Linked DNA regions of Homo sapiens. The protein of the gene in region 3 purifies or fractionates together with the protein of the main gene of each other region. This does not show direct contact. Each region holds a gene or a part of one and is shown on either strand. Other genes may lie near its edges.

Region 1 (4,212 bases), on a different chromosome or scaffold from region 3:
AGATTTCATGAAGCAGTATTCAGTCATCAAGTGATGCAGAGCTTGTATAGAAGATCGACTAGAAATCATCTTCATGAAGAGTGATTTTGGCACAAGTGACCGAAGAACAAAACACCATAGCAGCCAAAAATGACATGAGTGTTGTTTCTATCTCCAGTTACTGTCTCTTTCAGCAGAAATTAACCTATCCCATTGGAAAGGCAAGTTTGTACCCAAAGATGCAACAGTGAATAATACCCAAATCACTGCTCATGTTATCTCTTAACAATGATCAGTTCAATCATATAGGATTTGATGAGCTCACACATACACAAAAAGCAGCAAATCATCAGTGACAATATCACTGGCTTCAGAATACTTCAGCCTGTGTTCATTTCTGGAGAGTTGTACTCAGTTTTAAGTCATTTTGCTGTTGAAAATCTGACCTCATCAAATAGATGTCATTCCTAAAACTCTCTTTAGATGTCCTACCCTATCAGCAGATTAAAATGGAAGGGGTGTGTAACTAAAAACATAAATGTTAAGCATTAGTATAAAGTAACTTCTGTAATAAATTATATCGCATATTTTTTCAGATAGGACAGCTCAACCTTACGATGCCTACCTGATGCCAGGTGATGCTTATTTTCTTCCTAAAGTAGGTTACTGGTCATATCTTTTTTCCAAATATTAAATGCACCTTGCCAGATATTCTCCTGCAGCTCTAAGGAAAGGAAATCAATTTAAAAATAATTTGTAGAATCTACTATTGAGCCACCAAAGTATAATTCCCTAAAAGTTTAAGAAACCCTGGCAATTAATTCAGCATAAACATATCCTATAAACAGCAGGAGAGGTTCAGCTTTCTGATTTTACTGTGGACCTTTTCCTAAGGGCATTCATGAATGCAGCAACAGTTTTAACTATGGCTTACATTTATTTTAAATTTCACTAAATACAAATCTTGATTGTCATGCCAGTTTTAGATCTTATTAATTTTCAGAATGGATAAATTCAAATAATCATAAATTACGGTAACTTTTTATTATACCAAGGTGTTCTAATGCCATCATATGAAGACAGATGCTTCAAACAACCTGCATTAAATTATATTTTTAATAAAATTAAAATCTATTTTTAACCTATTTGTAGTCACAAACCGAAAACGTGTCGTCTTTACCTTAGAGCTAAAGGCTTACTTTATGCATACGGTATATTTAATAGTCTACAAATCAAAGATTTAAACAGTCCCTTAAAAATTCCATATATTCTCATACCAACTCATCTACATAGAAATGAAAATCTCTATTGTTCTCACAAACCATTACCATGAGTTCACTATAACAACTGGATCAATATGGCTTGCCTTTCAAAGTTAAAGAATCAGAAAGGGGCCTGTAAGAAGTCATTTAGCCCAATTCCCTCACCCTGTGTGTTTTCCCTCAAAGCCAGTGCAATTTTTTTTTAACCAAAAAACTGGACATGTTTAATACATACAGTTTGACAAATTTGGATTTCACTCTTTGTTTTGATGTAGTAACTCTTTTATAAAAGGGAACAGATTCAGACAAGCTCAGTGGCCCAACTGAAGACATTCAGCAATTAATGGCAGGACTTCAGTAATCAGTGGCAGGACTACAACATACATCTCTTCATGCTAGGGAAACCAGGCTCTCTATTATAAAGCTGACCAGGGCTATTGTTTTCCCCTTTTCTCTCATCCTAAACACCATTCATATTTTTCCTAGGTCACATTTTAGTGGGATCATTTACAAAGCCCCCAGAACTTAATCATCATGTTTTACCTTTTTTATTGAATTATATACACCTCTTACAAAAATGCTTGAAGTAATTTAACACCTGTACATCAGTACAAAACCTGGCTGAGTAAAATGAAGAGAGGATCTATTCAAGATCATTAAGACCAAATGTAAACTGGGAAGTATGTGGAAGATAGCTGTCCAGCAAGTGTCTGGAAGGTGTTCTAGCTGGGTAGAGAGCCTATTCTAACAGACACGCACATCGCAGAAAGCAGCATGAACAGAACCACATCCTAGATAAGAGTTCTGTGTACAGAAGATCCATGGAGGCAAGTGCTGTCAGGAAGGACACTGCCTCCCTCCACCCTCCCAAATGTCACCACCAAGTTCCTTCAGGTGAGACCTCACACAATGTCAAGTGCTTTCTAGGAAATACTAAGATCAGGTTGAGAGATTCTGCTTGGTCTAGTCAATCTGAAAAATTCAGGCTGGAAAGACACCTTTTCTCAAGAGCTGAATTGACTTTTGCCTTCAAATCCTGCCTGCACCTTGCCTACGATGGCATCAATTTACACCTAAGGACCTTTGAAGAGAAAAATTCCATTATTTCTTTTCTTTCTTGAGAGCAGATTTTTTCCCTCCTCCTTTGGAAGATTTGCAGTACTTTGCTTCCATCTGAGCCAGAAAATTGTCCATTTCCTTTTGCCGATCCTTTTGTCTGCTCTGTTTGAGAAGTTAAAACACAAGCTTTCACAACATTATCCATAGACAGAAAGTACCTAGTGGTTGCCAGGGGCTGGAAAAGTGGAATAACTACTAATGGGTATGGAGTTTTTTTGGAATGGTGAAAATGTCCTACAATTGGTGTTAATAATTGTAAAACTTTGTAAATACACTTAAAACCACCAAATTGTACACTTTAAAAGGACAAATAGAAGGTATGCGGTTATGTCTTAAAAGAAGAAAACAAAATACAACATTCCAAAGAAAATATTAGCAGTAGGAATCAGATCATTAAAGATGTGGCAACAAACTGCCAAGTTTACCTGAATGGCTGCCTTCAGGCTATCCACGCCTTCATCAAGCCCCAACTCCTTTCTGCTCATTTCTGCTTCTTTGGCCTCTTCCTGAGCCTGAAACAGGAACTCACATGAGACTCAGGGCCACCAGGAAATGCTTAAAATACATACTCTTTCCCAAAAGCAAATCTATAATTCTGTTTCAATTTTATGAATATATGAATAGACAAAATGAATCGAATTACATAACTATGTCATTCATTAAATGGCAACAATGCTGACAGCAAGCAGTAGATCCTCTGATTCCAATTACCATTTGTTTTTTACCCAATTCTATTTGCTAGAGGTAGTAAGTACTCTGGCACTCATAAATCACATGATGATAAAAAGGAACATGAGGCCGGGTATGGTGGCTCACAACTGTAATCCCCATACCTTGGGAGGCCAAGGTGGGAGGATCACTTGAACTCAGGAGTTCAAGACCTGCCTGGGTAACATAGTGAGACCTCAGTTCTATAAAAAAGAAAAGAAATGAGCCTGGTGTGGTGGCATGTGCTTGTAGTCCCAGCTACTAGGGAGGCTGAGGTGGGAAGATGGCTTCAGTCTGAGAGTTCAGGCTGCAATAAGCTGTGATCATGCCTCTGCACTCCAGCCTGGGTGATGGAGATGCCATCTCTTAGAAAAAAGAGAAAAAAAAAAAAAAAAGGCAAATGATGCAATTGCCAGGATACAGGTATTTCCAATTTCTCTCCTGGAAACCCAATTTACTCCATGGGACTGGTGGTGCCTTGTGAACAACCCCAGTTTAAAATGACTTCTCCCCAGTAGTCAGAAGAACCAACATCAATAAACTCAGTTTTAACATCTATTTACCTAATTTCAAAGCAGCCTTCCTTTGCCAAGTGTTCCTAGAGCATTGTTTACAAAATATCACAAGAACACCTTAGGGCAACAACTATAAGAGGCCCCAACACCCCTTGTGAATTTTCTAAGTAGCAATTAATGCTATTAATACTGAGGATGATGATACATTAGGACCCCCTATCCCAATAAGACACCGTTTCCTTGTATTCAAATTCTCTCTTTAAATTCAGCATCCCCCTAAGGTTTGTTGAACAGTCTATCAAAACTATGCCATTTTCTCCTCAAATTCTAGGGAAGTTTCTCAAGCTAACAGTCTACTGTGAATGCAGCTGTGCTCAGTTTCATCTCAGGAAATGATGAACGACTTAAGATAATTGTCAGCTTGAGTCTTAGCAGATGTAGCCTATGAACCAAAATGGTCTTGATATACACTCCACCGTTCCCCTCAAGCTCACCAGAAAGGGTGCAGCCTCTTATCTAGGCAAAACAGGCCCTTCAAATTTTCACCGGAAACAAAAAGGTCAGCTTTCTCTCTGCCAGCGTCTCTTATGTAAAAGCTGCAGAAAAGTTCCTGAGGGCACTCAGGAAGG
Region 2 (4,910 bases), on a different chromosome or scaffold from region 3:
TTGGTTTTTGTTCTTTCTCATTTTACTTGAATTTTCAGGGAGCAAAATCACTATGGCGTTCTTTAAAAGAAGTGCCAATTTCCAGGCTTTATCTCTAGAGATTATAAGTCAGTCAATCCACAGTGACGCCCAGGAATCTAGATGTTATGAAATTATTTTATTATAGATTTAATATACAGCTCATGAAAGTAGATTTAGTAAGATATATTAAAAGTTGCTGGGTGTGGTGGCTCACACCTGTAATCCCAGCACTTTAGGAGGCCGAGATGGAAGTTATCACTTGAGCCCAAGAGCTCAAGACCAACCTGGACAACACAGCAAGACCTTGTCTCTACAAAAAAGTAAAAAGTAAAAAATTAGCTGGGCATGAAGGCACACGCATGTAGTCCTAACAACTCAGGAGGCTGAGGCAGGAGGATCGCTTTAGCCCAGAAGTTTGAGGTTACAGTGAGCTGTGATCATGCCACTGCACTCCAGCCTAGGCAACACAGACCGTAACTCAAAAATACATAAATAAATAAATAAAAATAAAGGCCTATTAAAAGGAGAAAATTACTGCCTAATTACCAATTTAAAGTGTAGAAAATTGTTAAAAATTACCACAGCACAGAATTAAGCTTTATCTTTACAAATATTTATTGAGTGCCTATTATATGGGAGGCCCTGTGGGGAGTATAAACGTGTAACAAATGTTTATCAATTACTGTATAAAATAAACTTTATTGGAACTGAAGATAAGACAATTATTGTTCTCAAGATAAACCTAAATTAGTAAAAATAAAAGTTTACAACTAATTTCAAAGTTAATCTATGTCAAAAGCAAGGATAATCCAATCAAAGGCAAAATAGCTAAGGTTAAAACCCTAAGATATTCAGACACATAACATTTTACATAAAGGAAAACTACTAACAGTGTTTTATATAGGTGAAAGCAAACATGTAAGCAAAAGTTAATTTATTTTAAGTCAATGCATATGGAAATATTTTAATTAATTAATTAATTTATTTATTTATTTGAGATGGAGTCTCGCTCTGTCCCCCAAGTTGGAGCGCAGTGGCGCAATCTCGGCTCACTGCAAGCTCTGCCTCCCAGGTTCATGCCATTCTCCTGCCTCAGCCTCCCGAGTAGATGGGGCTACAGGCGCCTGCCACCACACCCAGCTAATTTTTTGTATTTTTAGTAGAGACGGGGTTTCACCGTGTTAGCCAGGATGGTCTCGATCTCCTGACCTTGTGATCCACCTGCCTCGGTCTCCCAAAGTGCTGGGATTACAGGCGTGAGCCACCGTGCCTGGCATGGAAATATTTTAAATATTATGATAAAAAAAAGAAGCATGATTGCCCTCACTGCAACATGTATTAAGCATCTAGGTCAGGTAAGGCACTTTGCTGTTTGCTATTGAATGGCTGGGGAAAGGGAGTGACACAGTTTCTATCCCCCAAATCCAGTATTTCAGGGGATAAAGATTTCCAAAAACGTGTAATAATAATTCAATCTGAGAAAGGCTGAAACAGAGGCAAAAAGCAATGGAAGAAATGGGATAAGCATAACTGGCTCTGTCTAGAGGTGAAGTTGATGTCTGACAAGAGGTTCTCAAGAGTAAATATTTGTGCTAAACCTTAAAAGCTGAGTAATTCTCCGGAGGAAAATATATCAAAATAGGAAAATAAAGAGAAGTGCAGGAAGATGGAACAGTTCAATGAAGTAAGGTTTTGTGAACATTCATAGCCTCTCTAGAGGATGGTGAGTAGACCAGGGTTTTAGGAGATGTCGCATAATATTAGCCCAGGCTAGTCCTGGAAATCCTTGTATTCCACACTAAGGCATTTGGACTTTATCCTTAGATCAGGAACTGTTTCAGAAAGATAACAGACAGCAGTGTGGTAAAATGGAGTAAGAAAGAGAGAATAGAGGCATATGGAATTTAAATGTAAAATAGATAAACGATGAGCAGAAGTCAACAATGAATACTAAAAGGAGAGGACAGTAGTATCCTAAAAAGATATTGGCATTTTTCTTATTCTGGGTTTCCAAAGGCTAAAAAATTTTTATAACATGCTGCCTCCACACAGAAAAACGCTCCTCATTAAGAGCACTGAGTTGCCACAATATTTTTCTAAACAGAACATGTCGTTTGGATTAAAATGAGAAATCCTATTTTGACTTCAAAACAGGCTTTTGAGGAAAATTTTTAAGATGGGTACATTTCTGACCAGTCAACAGTAAAACACCTAAGGCAAGTATAGTTCACTAATAATGATAACTGACACAAAATGTGGATGCCCTACCTTGATAGTCCTGTCCAAAGAGGCACTGGCAAACTGATTGTTATCTTTGGGGTTGATCACAATCTGCATAACATAATGGGTGTGTCCTTCAAACACTTGTGAGCAAGACCATTTTTTATCCCAGTCCCAGAGCTTAATAAGCATGTCATCTAGGCCAAAAGAAAGTCTCAAGTTAGTTGTAATTCTATTTTTTCACTTCATAACTAAGACACAGTCTTTAGAAGAAGCAAACCTAACACAAACCATATAATCCATGACTTACAGAAATAGAATCAAAACCAAATAGAGTTTTCAAAATGCTTATTTATCTTAAAAATAAATTTAACTCTCTACAGAAAAGTGGAGATAAAATAAATAAAATAGATTAGAAATAGAAAATATAAAAATTCTGTGAAAAAACTTAAAAATTCAGTGGGCATTAAAGAATGGCCAAAGAGTAATATAAGTTTGACTAGATCTAAGCATGACTGAATAGTGATAGCAATGACTATGTAGAGAACAAGCATTTGCCCTCACAAGATTGGTTTTTAAAAAGTTTTTAATTACTTCTCAATTTTTAATTTAAAAACATTTCAAAGAGCTATTACTAATTCAGTGCTACCTCTTTTTCCAGTCCTCCAAGAGGTCTACTATTTATACACAATACCAAGGAGCAAACTAGTTTGAATATAAAGATTGAACTGAATAGGGTCTATGGCAATCTGCCAAAAACTCACTCATCAACATGTAAATGACCTTTCTGTTCAGCAGATGTTTAAACATCTAGACTTGTAGGTCTTCTCTGACAGGAACTGGAGCAATCATTACACAAATCCTAAGTACAGTTGATATTTCATTATAGTACAAACACAAGCAGCATCAATAGCACAGTAATGGATCTAAATAGTTTAAAGGCCGCTTGGAATTAGAATTATATTTGTAACAGCAGTTAAAGCATAGCATGTCTCAGTGAATGAAAATGAATTACCCAAAGAGACGCACATGACCAAAAAAGGTCATCTCTTACCACTGCTAGTTAGAATGAAAGGCTGGGTTGGATGAACAGCAATACAGCGAATGTAGTCTGAGTGTGCTTCAAACATATGAACTCTCTCCAGAGTATTGTAATTGAACACTCTAATCTGCATGTCATCCTAGAAACAGAAATTTTAAAACCATCATCCCTGTTATCAAGTAAATTATACAAAAAAACTATATCACAGGCTCAAGGAATAAAGTCTATGCCTCAAAACATTGCTGTAAATAACAAAACAAATCGGGAATCAAAATCCTGCAACAAATTTACACAATCATTGACCAATTCAGAAAATGGGAATAGAGATTCATATTAATTACTTACCGCTCCTGTCACAACCCAATTCTTCCTTGCAACAAACTTTGCAGCTCGAACAGGAAGATCACATACTTCAAATGTCTTCACCAGTGTCTTTAAAATGTAACAAGAATACACAAATTGAGCTATAAGAAAATAACCACAAAATCTACTCTGTTATATTTCAAACATCCAATTTTTAAGATCACTTCTCATTTTAGTATATTCTCAGGCTAAAATATAAAAGCTCAACATTCAAATTTTTAAAAAAGACCAACTATCTTTTAATAGATTCGAAATTAAAACACTTTTTAAAAGATAAGAGAAGGCAAATATCCACAAGATGGTATTCCAGATCCTCTGTGCTCCAGCCCTTCCCTCCCTTTTCCAGCCTCACCTTTGGCTACTCCCAGCCTCACCTCTGCTCTTGTTGTCTCTGACTTGAAAATCCACCCATGGAAACTTGTACTTCCCTTTCATAATGTAGCACCTCATAATTATGTTTAGTGCCAATCTTTCCTGCTAAGCTCTCCAAAGGCAGGAATATTTTTCACACTGTATAGGCAGAGGATAGAACAGTGGCTGGCACACAAGTAGTGTGTAATAAATATTTGTTGAATGAATTAGCTCTTAGTTTCTTTTTTTCTTTTCTTTTTTTTTTTTTTTTTTTTTTTGAGACAGTCTTACTCTGTCACCCAGGCTGAAGTGCAGTACAGTGGCACAATCTTGGCTCACTGCGACCTCCGCCTCCCAGGTTCAAGTGATTCTCATGCTTCAGTTACCCAAGTAGCTGGGATTACAGGTGTGCACCACCATGCCAAGCAAATTTTTGTATTTTTCGTACAGACGGGGTTTCACCATGTTGGCCAGGGTAGTCTCGAACTCCTGGCCTCAAGTGATCCACCCGTCTCAGCCTCCCAAGTGCTGGGATTACAGGCGTGAGCCACTGCACCTAGTCAGTCTTTTTGAAATTGAAACCCATAAAAGTGACTCATGAATAAGGTACAATTCTTTTGCATGCTTTAGCAATATGATTCCATACAAATGTTATTATTTCTTTTTAATAAAATATGAAAACACCGTGACTTATATGTTCCTCCGAGCTGCTCAGAATGGAATTATACACATAGGATAAAGGTAGAGACCCTCCTAGAAAGAGCAGAGATCATGGTACCTCTTTGTTCTCCTTCTTTGATGCCTGTTCTTAAAAGTCTGAAAGTCAAACTATCATTTTCTAATCCTTTTTTGTATCAGAGAGCAAAAATGAAATAACTAAGAAACACAATATAATCTTACTGATTGATTAACC
Region 3 (4,910 bases):
TGTCCCACTTAGGCTTCAATCTGTCTTGGAACTGCATGGTTCCAAGTTATCTGGGCAGAACGGTTCCAAAGATTAAGGCAAGCTTTCTATTCCCTCGAGATTGCTTACCAAAGGAATTCTAAAGACACATGATCTAGAGAAATAAACAGCTATTCTGGCTAAGCTTTGGATGAGGTTAGCATTATAATTAGACAGAATAGTAACATTTATTCAGGAAAGGATCTTAGAGATAATCTAACAAAAAACGAATCCCACATGAGAAAACCAAGGTATTAAAAGTCTAAAGAAAAGGCCTACTAAGCACAACTTTTTGTATTCAGAGGTGCATATATTTATAAACCTGTGGAAAATATTTTTCAATTATATATTACATTAATATTCATTTCTTAAAGCATCCAAAAATAGTAAACCTAGGTTGCTCTGCTTATGGAGTAGCCATTCTTTTATTTCTTTACTTTCTTAATCAACGTGTTTTCACTTAAAAACAAAAAGGTAAAACTAATTTTTTAAAATAACTTGTTTAACAAAAAAGGGAGATTCAAAGAATAATATGTAGAATTGTTAAATATTATAAAAATCTCTGTTAAATAAAATATACTATTCTCTGGCTATGAACATCAGAAATATGAACAGTAATTATTACAGAGGAATGTTCTCTTGAACAGCTTTAAAAGAATGTCTGTTCTTTATATACAAATATAAATTTCTTCTGAAATTTCTTGTTAGTCTTTTCTTTTTTTTTTTTTGAGACAGTCTCGCTGTTGCCCAAGCTGGAGTGCAGTGGCACAATCCTGGCTCACAACAACCTCTGCCTCCTGGGTTCAAGTGATTCTCCTGCCTCAGCCTCCCAAGTAGCTGGCACTACAGGCACCCACCACCACATCCGGATTTTTTTTTGTATTTTTAGTAGAGACGGGGTTTCATCGTGTCAGCCAGGATGGTCTCGATCTCCTGACCTTTTGATCCGCCCACCTAGGCCTCCCAAAGTGCTGGGATTACAGGCGTGAGCTGCCGTGCCTGGCCAGTCTTTTCATGCTAAAACATAACCTTCATTCATTCATTCAACATTAATAAAATTATGTGATTCTGCCCTCAAGGAACTTACTTTCAGTTTAGTATAAAAGGTAAGAACAGGTACATTAGCTTAACTTATTTTTAAAAATTAGTATCTTCAATATTACACTATTAATACCATCAATACTAATAGCAAATAGACATTTATTTGATAACTATTTATTAAGCACCTAATCAAGGAAGCTAATAAACGATTTTTTAAAAAAACATTTTTGGTAATAACAAAATGATCAAATTAAACCAGTTCATTCACACTATTAAGGTGGTATACCTTATAAAAGACTTCTGGAAAATACATGAGAAAATAAAGAAAAAATTATGCATCTATCTTGCCCTTGTAGAACTATTAACCTAACTGGGAAAATAAAAGACATAAATATATGTTTATGAAAATACCAATAAGCTCTATTAAGAATAAAAATTACCTTTGATTTTCTCTGATATGTCTTCATCCATATTTTCTTCAAGATCTTGACCAGCCTGAACAAATGTTAAAGACTTGTAGGATACAATCATTAGACCATTTCCATCAGGCTCAATAGCAGCATAATGTGGCACTGACTTTCCACGGAGAATATCACGCTTAATAATTTCATATTTTTTATTATCTGTAAGAAAAGTATTTCAGAACAAAACATTACAAATAAAAACTATTATCAAAATATTCTGATATTTAAAAATTGATTTTAATTATAATTAAATAATTTGAATGTATTATTAAAAGGTACACTATTAAGAGTCTTTTCATAAGGATAAACAATTTACAATCTAATTTTCCGTAAATAAGTCCCTATTTTAAAATATTGGGTCTGGTGAAATTTGTTCCCGATTGTCCTGTCCAATGTGGTAGTCACTGGCCAGAAGTATCTACTTAAAATTAAGTAAAATTTAAATTCCTCAGTCATACTAGCCACATTTTAATTGCTCAATAGCCACACATGGCTAGTAGCTACTGCAGTGAATGGTACACATATAAAACATGTCCATCTTGGAGAAATCTCTTATTAGACAGCAGTACCCCAGAACTCCAACATGACCGGCTTACTTGGAATAACAGCTTCTGTATGACCTACCTCTCCTTGACTAAAGCCTGTCTGCCTTCTCAGCAGGTATGTGATAAGTTTCTTCTGAAAAGTGACAAATTGAGGACAAGGGGAAACATGCAGTGTGGTCTATTTTTCTGCCTGCTCTAACTCCCGATAAGGGGCATTTTAACAATGAAATAAATTTATAGCAGAAATGATTTTTTTTACACAAGACATTTATCTATATGCTTATAATTAAACATAAATTAGTGCTACTTTTAAGATATAAACAATTAACTGTATTCCAAAAGTTTCTGACAAATTAAACTTATTTTCCTATAAAGACAGTAATTTTTTGCTTTAAAAAGTACTCAAACATTTTAGCTGACTCCATACTTTTACCTATACTGTTACTCTTTAAGTGGGTTATACTTGTAGGCTTCATACTGAGTAGTCGAAAATCACAACTTAATGTCATATTATTATGAGTTTTTACATAATAATACCATCTGTTCTAAAATATCTCATTGTTTTTACTCAAAATCCTCACCTACATTCACACATTCAGTTCACACATATTTAAGAACAGGCTTGTAATTTAATGAATGAACAAAACTCCTACACTTCCCCTATAGATACATGCAGGGCCAAAAGTCCTACTTGACTTTAAAGATCCAAACACCGACATCACATATTTATAGCGTGGCCTTTCCCAGCATGCATGGGACAGAAAAGAATAGGAAGCCTCAAAAACCGGATTCCGTGGTTAAATATGTGGAGAAATGCTAGGTTAAAATTAAATGTAAATTGTTTTTTGTTTGTTTGAGACAGGGTCTTACCCTGTTGCCCAAGCTAAATGCAGTGGCACGATCACTGCTCACTGTAGCCTCAAACTCCCAGGCTCAAGCAATCCTCCTGAATAGCTGGAACTATAGGTGCACAACACCATGCCGAGCTAATGTTTCTGTAATTTTTGTAGAGACGGTGGCTCACTATGTTGCCCAGACTGGTCTCAAACTCCTGGGCTCAAGTGATCCTCCTGCTTTGACCTCCCAAAGTGCTGAGATTACAGGCATGAGCCTTTGCATCTAACCTAAACTTTTTTTACTCACAATTTTTAGAAACTTTAATATGCTTAATGTGTAATGGAGCTATTTTATGTCCACATTTTCAAACTTATCTGACCATAAATATACTTTATGAAATGTTTCATTCAAAATAGTTTACGAAAATACTGTTCTGTTAACTAAAAAGAAAAAGAAGAAAAAAACCAATCATATTAGTAGTAGTCTGGGAGAGAAGGAACAAGATATAAAAGAAAGATAAAGGGAACAATAAAGAGAATTAATGATTCTATAACTACAATCTTGGGAGAAAAAAGGTTAGTCTCAATGTATTTGTCCAGCTGAGGCAAAGAAACGAAGACAAACGGGATGGAGAAGTAGAGCTGGAGCAGAGTACTGCTATGTTCTGAGGCAATTTGATGAGTTACCACAGATTGAGAAAAAGATGTTACAGAACCAAGTGTCTTGGAGAAAGGAGGAGGAATATGCATGACAATGTCTCCTGTAAGATTTTGAATTACGTACCTTAAAAAAATTAAGGCTTCCATTATCTAAAGCAGGGGTTCTGCAAACTAGGACCCTTGAGCCAAAGCTGAATCTAGGCCTATTTTTGTATGGCCTGTGAGCTAAGCATGAATTTTATATTTTTAAATTGTTAAAATAGTAATATTTAAAGAATAATATTTAAATATATGTCAAAAAAACATAAAATTCAAATTCCTATGTCCATAAAGTATGATTGGAACACAACTATACTCATTCATTTATATATTGTCTATGGATGCTTTTGTACTGTGTTGGCATACTCGGATAGCTGTGACATAGATCTTATGGTTACCAACTGGGATTTCAAAAAAGTTTTCTAATATCTAATTAAAGTTTAAAGTTACTGTGTTCCTCCAGAGATAAAACTACAACACCAAAAAGAACTAATAAATTATATTGAATACTTCAAAGAACAAATCTAGGAGACTTATTCAGTTTATTTATAAACAATTTTGAGATATCTATTAGATAGACAGATAGCTGTTTTAGAATAAAAGGCAAAACCCTCTTAGGAAACAAATACTAACAGTCTTTACTGAATTGCAAACTAGCAGCTATGGTAAAGAAATATTTTTCTACAGAGATGAATGATAATTTAATTTATATTAACTTACTCATAAATGAGTCAGCTAATAAAAACTACTGAGAAAAAGAGCATAGAGTCATTATGGAAACAAGCACTCTCAGTACTCAACTACAGTTAAAAAGAAAACACTCAATGAGTCAGCAGGAACTAAGCAAAGGCAAAGAGATTTCTTAATACCTTAAAGAAATCCTAATTAATTCATGAGATTGTAATTTTTAATGTCAAGTTAGAAGCTTGACAGACAGCTTCAAACAGACCAAAGTTCAGGACTATTCTAAACATGGGAGCACATCAGGTAAGAAAAAGTAACAGTTTTCCTAAATGTAGAAACAAATAATGAAGTTCAATTAGATTTAAAAGAAATCATACCTGTACTTTAATGAAATAAAGACATTCATTTCCAAGTAAGTATTTATATTTATTTACATTTAAATTATACTATAATGTATTAATTTACATTTAGTTTTAGGTATATGTTTCTGTGTATCACACATATATATGCATATATTTTTGTATATATTAAAAATATACCCGTTAAATTATTCAAAACTTATATAACAATGTCTTCTTTTATATAAAAGGCATAATTGGCTGTGGATGCACACTGCAATTTTT
Region 4 (4,910 bases), on a different chromosome or scaffold from region 3:
TGTGACACCATGCCCAACTAATTTTGTTTTCATTTACAAAACATTTTAATATTAAAAATTATAGGTGTCCAGAATTAGCCTTATTGCAGTTGAGCATAAACTGGATGGTTATCCAAGTGTGTGTCTCTTAGGTTGCAGCTGAGATGGTCACTATTCCTGGAGGTCCATCCACATTCTCATTCAGAGCCCATGATCCAGATGCAGCAACCATGACCCCTTCTGTTACCCACTACTCAGCCGCCCATCAAGACCATTCTCACTGGCATATTTAAATGGGTGTTACTGGCCTACTGGCCATCTGTGATGAATCTTAAATGGCTTTCACTGGTGAAATTAAAAGTGAGCTAAGATACGTGGACTGGCTAAATGTGTGTCAGACACATTCCCTACCCTTCTATGGACACAGTAAAGTGAGGTCTTTTCCCTAATTTACCCTTCCAGAGGATACCCTAGGCTACAGCCTGTCTTTGGGGAATTCTGCCCCGTCAGACACCACCTAACAGGATGCTAGAATTCTGCCTCTGGAATCCTGGCATTTGCCTTGAGTGAATCATTTATGACAAGAGTCCCTAAAAGGGCAGAACTGAATCATCCCTAAACCTTCAGAACAACTCATTTGGGCTCTTTTGTGTGTTTTAAATGTACTTGCTTCCTAATAAACAGCTAATAAATATGTGTGGCAGTTTGCTTTGAGACTTGCTTTATACTTAGAAGTGAAGTTGTGGGGGAAGAAGCCAATTCATCTCAAGCTTCTTTTATGGATACTGGTATCTACCAAAAGAAGGAGGAGGAAGAGGAGGAGGAGGGGGAAGAGGAAGAGGAGGAGGAAGAGGAAGAGGAGGAGGACGAGGAGGAGGACAAGGAGGAGGACAAGGAGGAGGAGGAGGAGGAGGAGGACGAGGAGGAGGAGGAGGACGAGGAGGAGGAGGAGGAGGAGGAGGAGGAGAAGGAGGAGAAGGAGGAGAAGGAGGAGAAGGAGGAGAAGGAGGAGAAGGAGGAGAAGGAGGAGAAGGAGGAGAAGGAGGAGAAGGAGAAGAATTGTGCCCACTCAAATGGGCTTCGGTCAGTCTGCAGGAATCATAAACTGCACGTGTGTGCTCTTCCCCATCCCTATTATGAGGTTCTGTTATGTCCCCAGGGTGTGGCCTAGGTTGGGAATGATCAAGGTAGTATCTGACATTTCTATCTGTTTTGATATTTTCCAGATATTTAAAAGAAATATTCCAGATTGCTGTCAGCAGCAGTCAGATGTATGCTTGCCACACAGTCCTGACCTTCAGGGCAGTCCTGATTTGATTAACGTCTATGCTCTCACTGGTCCCCTCTCATGCACTGGTGTGTGTCAGGCCGTGGAAAGCAAACCAGACCACACGTGGCTGGCGCTCTCCAGCAGAGGCAGTTCGCACTCTAGAGGAGAAAAACTTCACCGTAAAGGGCATGTCAAGGGGGTAGTGATCTACCCTAAGCAAAACCACAAGTGCCACGAAACCACAAGCAAAACCAAGGCCAGAAACAGACAGCCAAAGTGGTTTTAGGATAATTCACCAGACACTTCACTATACTCCACATAGAATAAACGTCTGCAAAAATAAAGAAAACCATAAACTGTGTTTAAAGGAAGGCCCACTTACTCCCTTATAAAATGCTGAACATTCAGAAGGACTCAGAGTTTAAAATGTGAAATACAGGCAAAACGGAACTGAATAAAGCTGGACCGATACACTCATGAGGAAATGGCTTAAGAGAAACTACACAAAATTAAAACTTAAAAAAAAAAAAATTCTCACACATCAGCCACTTGGAGGAACTGGCCAAAGGGTGGCCTATTTCTCTCTGTAAGGCAACCAGGATGAAACATTTCAGCCCCAGCCTCAGGACACCATGAGTGCACGAAAATCTGCTTCTCAGGGACTTTCAATTACTCTGTGTCCTACCATCCGTTAAACCCATCAACTCCAAAGTCGCCTACAGAAAAGATGGCAGCAGGCCAGGCGCGGTGGCTCATGCCTGAAATCCCAGCAAACTGGGAGGCCAAGGTGGGTAGAACGCTTGAGGACAGGAATTCAAGACCAGTCTGGCCAACATGATGAAACCCCGTCTCTATGAAAAATACAAAAAATTAGCCAGGTGTGACGGCTCATGACTGTAATTCCAGCTACTTGGGAGGCTGAAGCACGAGAATCACTTGAACCCGGGAGGCGGAGGTTGCAGTGAGCCAAGATCACGCCATTGCACTCCAGCCTGGGTGACAGAGCGAGACTCCGTCTCAAAAAAAAGATGACAGCAGCACTGCTGCAGCAGGGAGTGAAAGGCAGACACTGCACGACGGAGCTGCTCGGACACCTGTCAGGGACTCAGGTTAGTCCTCGGATACAGCAGGACAACCATGCTACATGCATGCTGACCCTGCTTGTCCTCCACACTTGGGGCTCCTGCCCCTCCTGGGGTCCATTCTCCTCACATCCTTGATGCAGTTCTTCCTCCACTGCACAGGGCCAGTGTCATCTGTCTCCAGGTCTACCTTGGACCTGGTACCTTGCTTTTCTTTCCTGTACCCACCCAGGCCCTCAGTATGTGCACACGGCTCCTCCAGGGTTAAGGTGTAGGGACAGAGCCAACACAGGCAGGCTCTGCTGGGCGAGGGCAGGGCACAGGATACCTTTGAAATCTAACTCGTAGTTGTGCTTTCCGGCCTGGAACTTCAAGGTGGCTGCCTGGCCGTCAGACCCCGGTGTACAGTAGGCCAGGTAGGCCTTCTCCACGTCGCTACTGCTGACAGTGGTCACAGGGTGCACCGTGCCCTGCGATGGAAAGCCAGACACTTTATGAAGGCAAGAAACTGCGTGATGAGGAAAAACGCTGGTGGCACCCACGCCACATTTCAGAGGTGCTCCTGGTGGACAGTCCTGTGGTGGGGAAGATGGAGGCCAGGGAGCATGGTATGGCAGGAGAGAGAGGCACAGAATGGAGGCAACATGACTGTCTCCTGAAGCTGCCCTAGCAAACACAATGCAGTAAATATGGGTCCTGCTGAGCAGGAAGACAGGGATGGGAGCAACGGAGAGGAGGGCACTCAAGTCACCTAGGACAGAGGACACGGCAGCCATTCAAATGCCGGCAGAACAGCAACAGCGACTTCTGGAGTGCTGCTTGACTGGGCAGCCCAAGCCAGGCTGGTCTTACCCGTCTATTCACGTTGCAACCATCCTTTAATCAGAGCTCGGTCCTCTTCCTTGCGGTTTTCTTTTTCTGGTCCCTAGGAGCATTCATCTATTTTTTAAATTATCCATTTCAATCCCTATCCTTCCACAATTACCTACAGGAAATCTCGTAGCTTCAGCTGGAGTGAGTTTGAATTCTGGCTCCCAAACCTGCTGGCTCTATAACTTTGGCAAGTTATCTTAACCTCCCTGAGCCTCCGTTATCTCAAGCTTATAATATGAATAATAGTACTTAGGCCATATTCATCCCTTTATACAACAGGACTATATTGTCCTCACAGGGCTGGAGAAATCATTTAAATAAGGCATGTGGAGCACTTAGTACAGTGCCCAGAACAAAACATACTCAATAAATGTTACTATTATCATCACCGTTCTTATTAAATTTGAGATTACACTGACAACTAAAATTAAAGTTATTCAACCTATAACCAACTAACTCCCTCTGTCCCTGTCAATTTTCCTGCTCCCCCTACTGCTACCATCCTAGTTCTCCTGGGTCACAAGCTTTAGGTGTTACTAACAGAACAAAAGTGAGACAAGACAAGAGTCACCCATGCCTCTGCGCAACTGAGTCCAGCAATGGAGAAGGGGAAAAAAAAGTACCCAGATATTTCAAAGCCTCAAGCACAAGGTCCCACACAGGTCTCACGGGTGCTCTAGACGCTGAGATGGGTAACTAAGAATGACCAAGGAAGGGTGAGACCCAGCAAAGGTTTCTTGGAAGAAAAAGATGCCTGAGCCAAGGCCCAAGCCCGAGGGATGACATGAGTTGGCCCCATGAGGACCATAAGGGGCGGGTGTAAGAGGTATAATGGTTTGTAAAGCAGCCTCCTAGTTTACGGTCTCATAGCGGCGCCTAAGTTTCTCTCTCTGAAGTCTGTCTTCCTTCAAAACCAAGCCATTAGACTAGAGTCCGGGAGGAAGAGGATGTGGCATAAAAATCCCTTTCTGACAACAAGAGGAAAGGAAAAGAAAACAATCCCTCCCCTTTGGGCCTGAGGAAATGAAGCTCTGAGTCAGGGAAACAGAGAGGAGAAGCAGCAGTCAGATGCAGGCGTCCTGCCCCGACCCAGGCCTCCAGTCAAAATCCCTGCAGATGGATGGTCACAGAGGGAGGGAAGATGCAGGTGGATGAGCAGAAAGCAAAAAGCAAAGAGTTTTTTTGCCCTCAGTGGGAGGTTTGGAAGGAGAAACCAACAATGGCAGCCATATTATGTGTTAAGCTGAGAAAGGTCTCGGTTTAGCACCTGGAGGCACCAAGTGAGATGTGGAAGGAATGACAGATTCCCACATGTCCTGTGGCAGGACCAGCAGGTGTCTGATTTTGACATGAAATGTTGGAGTACTTCTTGAGCTCAGACAGAAAAAACTTAGCTTTTCTGGGAATCAAGAGAAAACTGTTTTGAAGTGGCAATTAACAGAAAACTAAAAAAGAAACCTAAATGTGGGGTTATACCAGAAACGTGTAGGAAAGGGAGGACAAGACAAACCAGATCATCCTAGGCTGTCCAGCCTGAAGCCACCAAGCCTACATGTGTTTCTACGCCCCCACTAGCACGTGGCATATCAATAACATCCACACGCGGTTCATCCCCAGACATTCTCAAACTGCTCGCCATGAGTTTCTGCACTGCCACAGAGGAAGAGGAGCACAGGAAAGAAAGGGGCACGCTCCAGGTGTTGGCT

What was found.
Region 1: the proteins of NUDCD1 (region 3) and DNAJC9 purify together in Homo sapiens (co-immunoprecipitation; one large-scale study listed by IntAct). This does not show direct contact.
Region 2: the proteins of NUDCD1 (region 3) and COPB2 purify together in Homo sapiens (affinity purification with mass spectrometry; 2 studies listed by BioGRID and IntAct, with this or other methods). This does not show direct contact.
Region 4: the proteins of NUDCD1 (region 3) and PARP12 purify together in Homo sapiens (co-immunoprecipitation; one large-scale study listed by IntAct). This does not show direct contact.

Annotation. Positions count from the first base shown.
Region 1 is NC_000010.11:73,241,058-73,245,269, forward strand, and holds the end of DNAJC9 (dnaJ homolog subfamily C member 9), read right to left. Parts: intron 3,448-4,212; exon of another isoform or gene 2,873-3,447; coding exon 2,786-2,872; exon of another isoform or gene 2,463-2,785; coding exon 2,343-2,462; 3' UTR 897-2,342; downstream 1-896.
Region 2 is NC_000003.12:139,375,752-139,380,661, forward strand, and holds part of COPB2 (coatomer subunit beta'), read right to left. Parts: intron 3,716-4,910; coding exon 3,629-3,715; intron 3,423-3,628; coding exon 3,296-3,422; intron 2,439-3,295; coding exon 2,290-2,438; intron 1-2,289. UniProt on the Homo sapiens protein: The coatomer is a cytosolic protein complex that binds to dilysine motifs and reversibly associates with Golgi non-clathrin-coated vesicles, which further mediate biosynthetic protein transport from the ER, via the Golgi up to the trans Golgi network.
Region 3 is NC_000008.11:109,288,252-109,293,161, forward strand, and holds part of NUDCD1 (nudC domain-containing protein 1), read right to left. Parts: intron 1,683-4,910; coding exon 1,500-1,682; intron 1-1,499.
Region 4 is NC_000007.14:140,035,056-140,039,965, forward strand, and holds part of PARP12 (protein mono-ADP-ribosyltransferase PARP12), read right to left. Parts: intron 3,257-4,910; coding exon of another isoform or gene 3,188-3,256; exon of another isoform or gene 3,184-3,187; intron 2,907-3,183; coding exon of another isoform or gene 2,802-2,906; coding exon 2,660-2,801; intron 1-2,659.